Regions from separate parts of the Homo sapiens genome. Here region 1 is linked to region 2. A link means that fine-mapping ties the variant in region 2 to the expression of a gene that starts in the linked region. Tissue or cell type: monocytes after LPS. Region 2 holds a variant in brackets; the other region holds the start of a gene. All regions are shown on one strand. Distances are from middle to middle.

Region 1 (5,727 bases), 870 kb after region 2:
CCTGCTAATAGCTCATCCTTAATCATTTTCAAATGTTCCAATTCTTTCCATCCCTATCGCAGTTACCTTAGTTCTGTCTCCATTATTGTTTGCTTGGATTACCATAATATCCTCCAATGGCGGTTTCCTTGTCTTCAGTCTTGCCCCGCCTTTAACTCTTTGCTACCTGCAGCATAAAACATTTTTCTAAAATTCAAGTTTGATCCTCTCACCTTTAACTGAAAACCTGATCTGCTGCTCATCAACACTATCTCTGTGTTTCTAATAATGATCATCACTGTAATAGCATACTTAGCAAGCATTTACTACATGCCAGGAACTGGGCTAAACAAGATGTGCTTTTATCTTATTAAATCTTCCTAAAACATTATTACTATCATCACTATTTTACAGATGAAGAAACTGATTATTAAGAAGGTTTAGCAATGTGTCCAAGATCATACAGTTAATAAGTGTAATTGAATAACTTGTTGAAAAACCAAAAAACCCTTAAAGACAAAGTTGTGTAGGGAATAGAATTTTTTACTTGCACCTGCAAGAGGGACCGATTATTAGAGAACTGGCTTTGTAAACAAAAATGTAGGGCAGGTATTTAAAGTAAAAAAATCACAAGGATAGACAACAGCTCAAATTGTTATCAGTTCACAAGTCTGCTTGGATGTATGTGGGTCAATTTTGTTAAAATCTAGACGGTCCTTTCTATTAAGACATTACAATGCATCAACACCAAACAACAGAAAAGAAAATCCATATATCCCTGTTTTTCATGCTTTGTCTGGGACTAAAGGAAGGGCAGGCCTTTTCTAGACTATGGAATCTAAGTTTCAGAAAAAAATCATTTAAGCTGCAATATAAAGAATAATCTTGGCCGGTCGCAGTGGCTCACACCTGTAATCCCAACACTTTGGGAGGCCGAGGTGGGCGGATCACGAGGTCAAAAGTTGGGCACCAGCCTGACCAACATGGTGAAACCCCGTCTCTACTAAAAACACAAAAATTAGCTGGGTGTGGTGGTGTGCGCCTATAATCCCAGCTACTGGGGAAGCTGAGGCAGGAGAATGGCTTGAACCCAGGAGGCAGAGGTTACAATGAGCCGAGATCATGCCACTGCACTCCAGCCTGGGCGACAGAGCAAGACTTCATCTCAAAAAAAAAAAAAAAAAAAAAAGAATAGTTTTAAGGAAGGCAGAATTAGAGATAGACAAGTTATAGGAACCCAGGCAAGCCATTATAATGCCAAACTAAGGCAATGGCAGGAGGGATAGAAAGAACTGGACCAGTTTTAAATCCATTATGGGACAGGAAAGGCATGTTGCAGTCCCTTCAGCCAAGTTGCAAGTTTTGAATGAGTTATCCAAACATTATTAAATGCATCTTCAGTGATGACTACCAAGCTTTTTTCCAGGAACCAACCCTCTTTTGTAAAAATGTTAGGTTAGCCTGTTCGTTCTGGTTTCTTGGGCAGTGACTGGGATGTTCAAACTATTAATTGGGATAGAACACCGAAGCTGGTTAAAAACAATATTTCTTATAGAAATTGATCTTGAACATGGATCAAGGTTCACTGCTAGCAGGAGAATCGGAGAGTGTGTGGTAATGAAAAGTTATAGTTGAGAAAACAAGCGTTTACATCAGCAACTAATTAAGAAAAAAGCAGCTCATAAGTGGATGAATGCAGTTCATAAACACATTATATCAGTTATTACACAGGAAATCTAAGGCAGAATACTGTGAAATGCAAGGTGTATAGCTTATCAACAAGAATGTAGCAAATACACCATTCAACTAAGAAAGAAATGATAAGGCTGCATCTGGGGCTGTTGACTGGAAGCACAAAGTTTCCTTTCCTTGTAGTAGTTCCTAAAGATTCCAGTTTACATGGAAAGACAGAAAGCTGTCACACCCATGGCAGGAGCGCAGAACCCAAGCGACAAATTCTAATTTTGAACAGGCAGGTGCCAGTGCATTTCTCAAACTGCAAACTAAAATGCAGAAACACGATTTTCCTGTTTCTTAGTTTTGGACCGTTTTCCCCCCTCTAGCACGCCAGAGCAGGTTTTAATTGTTGTCAGGTCAGATGGTGAGTTAACTTTGAGTGTTGAGTTGAGGGGCCAGTGGGATGTGGGTCCAGTTGAAAGGTGGATATATGTAGATCCAGACTCGAGTGATATAGGCTGCAAATAAATTGCTAGTGAATTTATGAATTATTAGAAAAGAAAGGACATTCATTATGATTTAATCGCAGTTGAATGTAGGCAGCACAGAGGGCTTATACTGTGTCTTTTTTTTTTTTTTTTTTTAAATATACGGTGTCTATTTTGCTCACCACTCTATGCCCGGTGCCTGGAAGTGCGACTGGCACATAGTAGGTGTTGCATAGTTTCAGAATGAACTTTTTAGGAATCAAAATTCTACAAACATTGCACACAGATTTAACGTTCCCTTATTTTCCAGGTGAGGTCAGGGCGCCCTTTGGTTTCGCGCTTCTGTCCCTTTAAGAAAGTGGAGGAGAAAGAAAGCGCTGCTGGGAAAAAGGGCGGGGCCGCGAGGGGCCGCCGTCCGTCCCGCCCCCTGCCGGGCCGCGGCGCTCTGCTAGAGCGTGGCTCAGTTTTGGTAGCGGGACCCCGGAAATGTAAAGCATGAGCGGGAACAGTCGCCAGGGCGAGTGACAGGCGAGCCCTATGCTTTACTTCCGAGGGCGGTGTCAGCAAAGCTAGGTAAGGAGACAGGGAGGACGGTGCCTGCCCCTTTAAGATCGACTCCACCCCGCCTCTGGAGGAAAATGACGCCGCCGTCTACCCGTTGTGGAACGTAACTCTTTTCATCCCATCAGCTCTCCTTCTCATTAAGAGAAATACCAAGTGGTCACCACAGTCACATACTTCATAACCCATGCCTCATCGGTGCTGGGACGGGAGAGGGAAGCGCCGATCTAAATGACATGGGGTCCAAATCCCAAATAATCTCTATTTGCTCTGCGTTACCTTTAAACTTAGGCTGCGTTGTGTGATTCAAGTGACAGCCTAGTACTGCTTAACAATTAGTCTAGTGGGATACCAGGCCCTGAGAGACCCCTACGATCCCAGGACACTGATGTGGGGTAACTAACACCCACTGGAAGTCTACGCTGAGTTCACAGGCTATGTATGACCTGACATGCATTTTGACCTGCCCTGTGTTTTGATATTTGAATGAGTTGCTGATGTTTACAAGCCGAAGCTGGCCGGGCGTGGTGGCTCGCGCCTGTAATCCCAGCACTTTGGGAGGTCGAGGCAGGAGGATCGCTTCAGGTCAGGAGTTCCAGACCAGTCTGGCCAACATGGCGAAACCTCGTCTCTACTAAAAAAAAAAAAAAAAAAAAAAATACAAAAATTAGCCGGGCGTGGTGGCACGCCCCTGTAATCCCAGGACTCGGGAGGCTGAGGTAGGAGAATCGCTTGAACCTGGGAGTCGGAGGTTGCAGTGAGCCGAGATCACGCCACTGCACTCCAGCCTGGGCAACAGAGACTCTGTCTCAAAAAAAAAAAAAAAAAAAAAAAAAAAGGTGGAAGCTAATGTGTCAATATCTAGATTTTTTTGATGATTTTGAGAAATCGGAGGATCTGGCAGCATGTCCTGCCTAGCCTTTTTGAACTGTTTGAAAACAGTCTCCAGCTTGCCACAGCCCCTCTGTTATTTTACAGCCAGCCTGCATCACTCATTTATGATGTCCAGCCCCTTGTGGGGATTTGGATTTTTGACCCCTAAATACTTTAGTGGATTTAAGACCATTTAAAACATTTATGCAGAAGAGATCCGAGGTCCCCAAACAACTGGGTGTATAAGTTGTGTTTAAGTTGTTCCTCATTCTCATTTATTCTAATCCGGGTGTTTTTCTATATATATATATTTTTAAACAAATCTTAGTGATCAATTGCACAGGTGTTTTTCTGTTGGAGCAAATCTTTTCAGTTTAGGCTTGGTAAAATCGAACCATCAGATACTTTTACAGAAAGAGATTTAGGAGTTGATGTTCTTTTATTACAATTAAATGCATACAGTATTTTTAAAGGAAAAAACCTGAATCTTGATTGCATTGTTTTATGATACAACAATCTTTAATGAAATAGAGTAGTCAATATAATTTGTATTAATATATCTCTGCCCACAGACAATTATAAATTCATTAACCCCCAGAACTCTTGGCTAGACTTCATAAAGGCAAAAACTGTGTTTGCCCTGTTAACTGCTTTATCCCACCACTAGAATATAAGCTTCCTGAAGACAGAAGACTTCTGTTATTTTGTTCACAGTTACCAAGCATGCCTACTTTGTTAAATTTATGAAAGAACTTTAAAGGTACAGTTGGCCCACAATATAACAATATAGCAATATAAAATTACAACAATAAAAATAACACAAAAATAGTGTAACAACTACTTATATAGCATTTACGTTGTATTAAGTATTATGAGTCATCCAGAGATGATTTAAAGTAAAGTATACCACAGCATATGCCTAGTTTATATACAAATATGATGCCATTTTATATAAGGGACTTGAGTATCCTCTGATTGTGGTATCCTGGAAGCAGGGGATACCGGAACCAATCACTTGAGGATACTGAAGGATGACTGTATGGCTGATTTCCTGTAAGAGGCATTTTCTTGAGGATTCTTTCAAAATCAAATGCTTGTATATTTGTTGTGTTAAATTACTAAAAGGATTCTCTTGTGAAAAGTATCATTTAAAAAGATTGGATTTTCCCAATTGATGCACCAAAGCTTTCATCTGAAATGAACTTGCACATGTGAATCATCAGATACAGTAATATACACTGTAATATTTTATTTCTTTTTTTTTTTTATGAGACGGAGTTTTGCTCTTGTTGCCCAGGCTGGAATGCAATGGTGCGATCTCGGCACACTGCAACCTCCGCCTCCCGGGTTCAAGCAATTCTCAAGTAGTGAGATTACAGGTACCCGCCACCACGCCTGGCTAATTTTTTGTATTTTTAGTAGAGACAGGGTTTCACCATGATGGCCACACTGGTCTTGAACACCTGACCTCGTGATCCACCCGCCTTGGCCTCCCAAAGTGCAGGGATTACAGGCGTGAGCCACCGCGCCCGGCCAATATTTTCTTATTATGTAATAGGATCTAGAAATGTTGCTCTTCCTCAGAATTCTCAGTATTACTTTTCTTTTTTTTTTCAGAGTCAGAGGTTCCGGTTGAGATCAAGTTGGGAGACACACCCTTGTTCATTCTCCTTGAGAAGCAGCTATTATCAACAGAACATTGACAGAACCTGTGTTTGGGGAAAGGACTGATGGCTTTGAGTCTAGGTTGGAAAGCACACAGGAACCACTGTGGTCTCCTCTTGCAGGCTCTGCGAAGCAGTGGTCTTCTCTTGTTTCCCTGTGGCCAGTGTCCCTGGAGAGGAGCTGGAAGCTTTTTGGACCCTGAGATAAAGGCTTTCCTGGAGGAGAACACTGAAGTCACCAGCAGTGGTAGCCTCACCCCTGAAATCCAGTTGCGGCTTTTGACCCCCAGATGCAAATTCTGGTGGGAGAGAGCTGACCTGTGGCCCCACAGTGATCCTTACTGGGCAATCTACTGGCCAGGAGGCCAAGCCCTGTCTAGGTACTACCCTAATGAAACCTTTAAGGCGCTACAGATCTTTGCTGTTTTCAGTTCCCTCCAACCTCTACAAAAAACCAGAGCAATGCTAGGCGTGGTGGCTCATGC
Region 2 (5,727 bases):
TATTAAAGAATATAAATATTTTAAGGATCTTGTTATATGTTGCCAAATTGCTTTCTCAAAGGATTACATTAATGCTTTCAAACAATAATCAGGAAGTTCTAACTTTAATACAACCTCATCAGCATTGAGTATCACACAACTTAATCTGCTGTACTCATTTAAAACACAATTTTAACAAACGTATTTTCTGGTTTCCCAGCCCTCACAAATTAAAAGCAAAAAATTCAAAGCAGTAAAAACTAATATTGGAAAAGGTATTTAGGCAGATTTTCTGATCACTTGGTAGTGAAAAGAAAGAAATATAAATATAAGAAATAAAATCCTAGACATCTTAGATCATTTAATGGCTAAACACATCTTCAGTCTTTAAAGTCCATGACATCATTGTTTGTTGCAGTATATAACAGTTAATGTTCATTGTAATAATACTAAATGATCCATCAACAAAAATCCAGATGACAGTAAACAAATTTTTGACAGAGCAGGAGCATCACCATCTTGGACAAGCCCCTCATTCTAAAGTTCACCTTAATAAAAAAAAAACGCCTAAATCCAAAGGGTATCAGCCTAATGGCTAAGGTCAGCATAAACCACAATAACCACAAATAACATCTCCAACCAGAAACATTCCAAACTCCTCCCCAATCAGAGACTTGCCAGCCCCGAGATAACCCCCCGCCAGCCAGGAAGATGCCAGCTCCGAGATAACCCCACTCCAAGCCAGAAAGATGTCTGCCCCAAGATAAACTCCCCTCCTCCCAGAGACATTCCAACCCCACCATAAAACTTGTCCCTCACACAGAAACATTCCAAGCTTCTAATAAGCCCCCTTACCCTAAAACCAATATGTTCTCTTAGTCTGTAAGAGAAAGTGCTCCTAACCAAAGTCAGCCAGAAGCCCCTCTCAGGTTTTATCAAAAGTAAACCTGTCTTTACTGTCAAACCACATTTCGTGTCTCTTTCCTGTTTCTTTAACTCTTACAATTTTGTTTTAGGGAGATTTCCATTAACAAGTAAAAATAAAATTTATGCTGAAAGAGGCCATCTCTGGCTGGCTGTATTTTCTTTTTAGACCTTGAATTGGTGTGAAGAGTCATAAGGGTTTGCTAAAGGAGGAGTGAGAAAGTGGGGAGGGTGTGAGCTCCATAATCAGGAATAAAAACCGGGGGTACAAGACCAGGGCAGAAAGTCATTTTAAAATTCCAGAACTTCTGACACATCTTCATATTGGTTATCATTTGTTATCTCCTTCCTATTTTCCTTGGAAGCAGAAGGGCCTGTCTACATATATTCTTGTCTTCCCAAGCAGCAAGGAAGTGGGAAGTTGAGAAAGCTATTTCCTCTCCACACTTTTTCAGGCATATTAAGAATAAGAGAACCCTGAAGGGTATAGTGGCTGGCTAGGTAATCGAAGAGAAAAAAGTAAGTCCTATTTCCTTAGCTCTGCAGCAAAGAAAGAAAGAACTTTGACATCAATCTTCATATGAAGAAAAGGTCATTAAGCTCAGTAGATTAAAAATCTGAAATGATTCTTTAACTGTATCAAACATAAAAATCACCTGGAGGGCTTGATAAAACAGAGATTGTTAATCCCTACTTCAAGAGTCTATGATTTAGTGGGTCTGAATAGAGCCTGTGAACCAAAAAGTGGCTGAGGCAGATCTCAATCGAGTTAGAGGTTTGTTTTGCCAAGGTTGAGGATGTGGCCAGGGAAAAAGAAACACAAGTTACAGTAGAATCTGCGGCCTGTACTTTTTCCAAAGAGGGTTTTGAGGACTTCAATATTTAAAGAGGAAAGAGCAGGTAGAAGAGGAAGGAGAAAAAAAAAGAGGCTGGGTGTAGGCAGTAACATGTTTACATTCTTGTGAGGCTTCTATTAGCCCTTAAAAACTACTCACTGAATCCACATTTTACATGTGAAAAGAGAGTGGTGGGGTTAAAGTCAATTATGCATTCTTCTCATGCTGCGTATATCTACATTTTACATAAGATAAAGTAAGCATAGAGTAGAGGAAGAACTCAATTATGCATTTGTTTGGGGTGGGTGGAGGAATTTCTAGTCTTATGTTTGGCCCTTACCTGTGAAAATAAGCTGTTAATTTGCATTGTCAGGGTAAGATTCAACAGCACTCTATTTTAGGGCAAGTTTATAGGAGGGATATGTATTCTGAAAGATGTGGAGTCCACGAGGAATTTCCTTGTGAGCAATTTGTGAGGGAGG[A/C]CCCCTGGGAAGATATGTGACCTTCTATTTTGCAGCTATTTGGTTGGGAACAAAAAGGAAGGCAGTTTGATTGCTTTTGTGTGACTCAGTTCCCAAGCTTCACTTTCCCTTTGGCATAGTGAGTTCGGGGTCCCGAGATTTTTATTTTCCATTCACAGCCCTGAGAATTTGCATTTCTAATAAGTTGCTAGGTGATGCAGATAATGTGGGTCCAGGGACCAGATTTTGGGAACCACAGCAGGTATGGTTCCCAGTCCTGACTAATCATCAGAATCACCTGTGATGTTAAAAACAAAACAAGACAAAAAAAGAAAAACAAACAAACAAACAAAAAAACCAGATTCCCAAGAGCCTCATGCCAGAAGCCACCAATTTGAATCTTCAGAAGTGGAGCCACCGGGAACCTGTTTATTTGATAAAGCTCCCCATTAGATCCTGGCGTTCAGCAGATGCAGAGTTCCACAGCCCCAGAGTACTCAGGATTATGCTAAACATTTAGTCAGTGTCTAAGAAAGCCTTGATTGATGGGCTGATTTAGATCCGGAGGCACTTTCAGCAGTAAAATGTGAATCCTTTTGTATGCTAAGTTTTTATTTAATTTGTGATGATGATATTCTTTGGAGAAGATCTGTACTGGTCTCTTAGCTACATAAAAATGAGCACTTTTGTAAAGGAAGTTCTCACAATTCTAATAGACAAATTAAAAAACTCTAGCACAACCATGTAAATCATCAGAATATTTCCATAGCAATAGCACAAAAACTTAAAAAAAAATAAGGAGTCCCACTTTGGGAGGCCGAGGCGGGTGGATCACGAGGTCAAGAGATCGAGACCATCCCGGCTAAAACGGTGAAACCCCGTCTCTACTAAAAATACAAAAAAATTAGCCGGGCGTAGTGGCGGGCGCCTGTAGTCCCAGCTACTTGGGAGGCTGAGGCAGGAGAATGGCGTGAACCCGGGAGGCGGAGCTTGCAGTGAGCCGAGATCCCGCCACTGCACTCCAGCCTGGGCGACAGAGCGAGACTCCGTCTCAAAAAAAAAAATAAATAAATTTAAAAAAAAAAAAAAAGATAATAATAATAATAAAAAATAAGGAGTCCAAATGGAATTATCCTGAGATTCTGTCAGATTTATCCTTTAGAAATTAATAGTTGCCTTTTATCAGAATTTCCTGGCAATGTAACTAGATTGGTGGCTCATATGCTTATCAAAATTTAGTAGGTTAGATTTTCCAGGTAACATTACTTTCTTTCCTGATATTCTTCATAGGCTGGTTTTTACAACATATTTCTCCTGGTAACTAACTGTCTATTTAGCAGAGATTAAAAGCAGAACAATGTTCTTATTTTTTCAAGTATTTTATTTCATAAAAAGGAGAGTTGTCACTTCAATAATCTCTGACTAAATTAGGAGTTGGATAATATGGGTCTAAACTGTGTAATTTCATCTTTTCTTCATTTCCATAATGGTTCTAGGTCACATTTCTTACTAACAAACTTCTAAATTTTGTGCAACCTACTTAACTGAAATGAACCATTAAGCTTTGGCTTGTTACACATTTGCACAAATGAAGAAATGGCTTGTGAGCTTAACTCTAAATTGTGGTTCATTTAGAGAAGTGGTTACTGTATAATTTGTAGATTGGGTACTGAACTCAGTATTTTTGAAATTAGATAATAGAGAGCTAATAGTGACCCAAATGGAAAAACACACCTTATGTTCACTAATGAAATGTAAAATAGAATTCATCATTCTCCATGTGATGACAAAGAGCACAAAAGCAATGTGAAAATTAACTTAATTGGAAATATTGTAAAATTATTTTCAATATCATACGTTAAATTAAGGCGTTGCTTTGATTGCTAAGTAGATAATAGAAAAAGCCGAAGTGGTAAGCCTTGTTAGAATTTGTGCAAATGCTTTACAAATTGCTGATTTTCTAGTACCATCACAACATTTAATAGTGGTACATTTAATAGAAAGGCAGTTCAAGTTGAAATAGATGACAGTTAAGTAGATGTTTTGAACAAGTTGTTCAATAACTTCTCAAACTAAATTTCATCTTCTGTATCCAGAGAGCTAAAAATATATTCCCTAGGATCTAGCACTTTCCTTACACATAGTTGGTAGTCAGTAAACACTTGTCAAAAGTAAGGGAACAGATGAATACTACAAGATAATGTAGTGGAGTCTAAGCTGGTATTGCTCACTGCAGGACAGTCAATAAGTCACGAGACAAGGTGTTGGGGCAAGAGGGCAATAACTCAGTTTATCTGCTCAACCGAGAAGATGATGGACTAATGTCCTAAAGAACTGTCTTAAGGCAATGTGCATTTCCGGTCCCTTTATTGTTAAGGGAAGAGGGTAGAAGGAGATGGAGTTCAAGAGGTGACTGATGGTTATAGGCATCTGGGCAGCAGAGAGCATCTGAGAGGGAGTTGGAAAACTTCTTTGTCCTTGGTCAGGTCACAATGCTCCTATAAATCTTTAATTATATATTTCTTATTATTATTTTATTTTTTCATATACCGAGTGAAAGCTAGGATCCCATAAATCTTTAAAATAACATTGTTCCTTGTATGTACACACTCCTTACCTCCTTGGAGGTTAGTTTTGGGAAGGAACTAGCATCCTATTATCCTTGCTTTAAAGTTAAACTACAAACTAAATTCCTTCCATCATATCATTTTCTTGGCCTTCATGCAGAGATAATAAAAATTAGTTAATCTAAAAGGTACCACCTGGAGGGGGAAGGGGGGTGTTAGGAGCAAAATGGAGTTTGTTGAGCTAGGCCTCCTTTTCACTGTTACAAAGATGCTAGGAGAAAAGTTATCTCCTTGGCACTGGAGAGAAGTCTGGGTGCAAAAGAGAAACAAATTGAAAATCAGTTGTGATTCTTCTAGGATTCGTTAATTTCATCCTCCCAATCTCTTTTGCCAGTCCAATCCTCTCCCAAGAAGTCCAGATTCCAGCTCTTACTGGACGCCTCCATTTCAAATAGTGCAGCAAACAGGTTAAGAATACAGATGCTGAACCAAGACAGCTTAGGTTCAAATCTCCAAACCCCACTGACTTTAGCTGTTTGACCACAGGCAAGTTACTTTACTTCTTGATATCTCATTTGTGAAATTGAGTCAATAATAGCATATCTATCTTAAGCTGTGCTGGAAGGATTATGTGACTTAAGACATGTAAAGCATTTTAGGATAGTGCCCACATACCTGTGATAGACAGCTTCAGACATAGCTCCCAGTGGTCTCCACCTCTTGGTGATCAGCCCTTGTATAATTCCTTCCCCTAGAGTGTGGGCTGAGCCTAATGACTTGCTTCTAATACATGGAATTTGGCAAAAGTGAGGGTGTGACAGTTAATTTTTTAATGTCAACTTCATGAGGCTGAGGGATGCCCGCATAGCAGGTATAATATTATTTCTCAGTGTATCTTTGAGGATATTTCCGTAAGACATTGGCATTTGAATCAGTAGACTGAGTAAAGAAGATTGCACT

Alleles and levels. Alleles are on the strand shown, and positions count from the first base shown. SD is a standard deviation of normalised expression in the study named.
With allele A in place of C in region 2, the expression in monocytes after LPS of the gene that starts at base 3,043 in region 1 is higher (moderate effect, 0.43 SD a copy in Fairfax 2014).

Evidence for each region. PIP is the estimated chance that this variant, and not a neighbour inherited with it, causes the effect.
Region 1: it holds the start of ETFBKMT, and the variant in region 2 is fine-mapped to the expression of ETFBKMT in monocytes after LPS (Fairfax 2014, PIP 0.95).

What each region holds. Positions count from the first base shown.
Region 1 is chr12:31,656,646-31,662,372 of GRCh38, forward strand. It overlaps ETFBKMT (electron transfer flavoprotein subunit beta lysine methyltransferase), which reads left to right and starts at 3,043. Exons shown (of 4, transcript NM_001135863.2): 1 at 3,043-3,144; 2 at 5,196-5,622. The coding sequence starts at 5,309. RefSeq lists a silencer at 2,401-2,710 and enhancers at 2,412-2,913, 2,831-2,990, 5,438-5,557.
Region 2 is chr12:30,783,767-30,789,493 of GRCh38, forward strand. No RefSeq gene overlaps it. Among named protein-coding and RNA genes, the nearest start is that of LINC00941, 9.1 kb to the right of the region's middle. RefSeq lists an enhancer at 1,723-2,224. The variant A/C (reference allele first, on the strand shown) is at 2,222.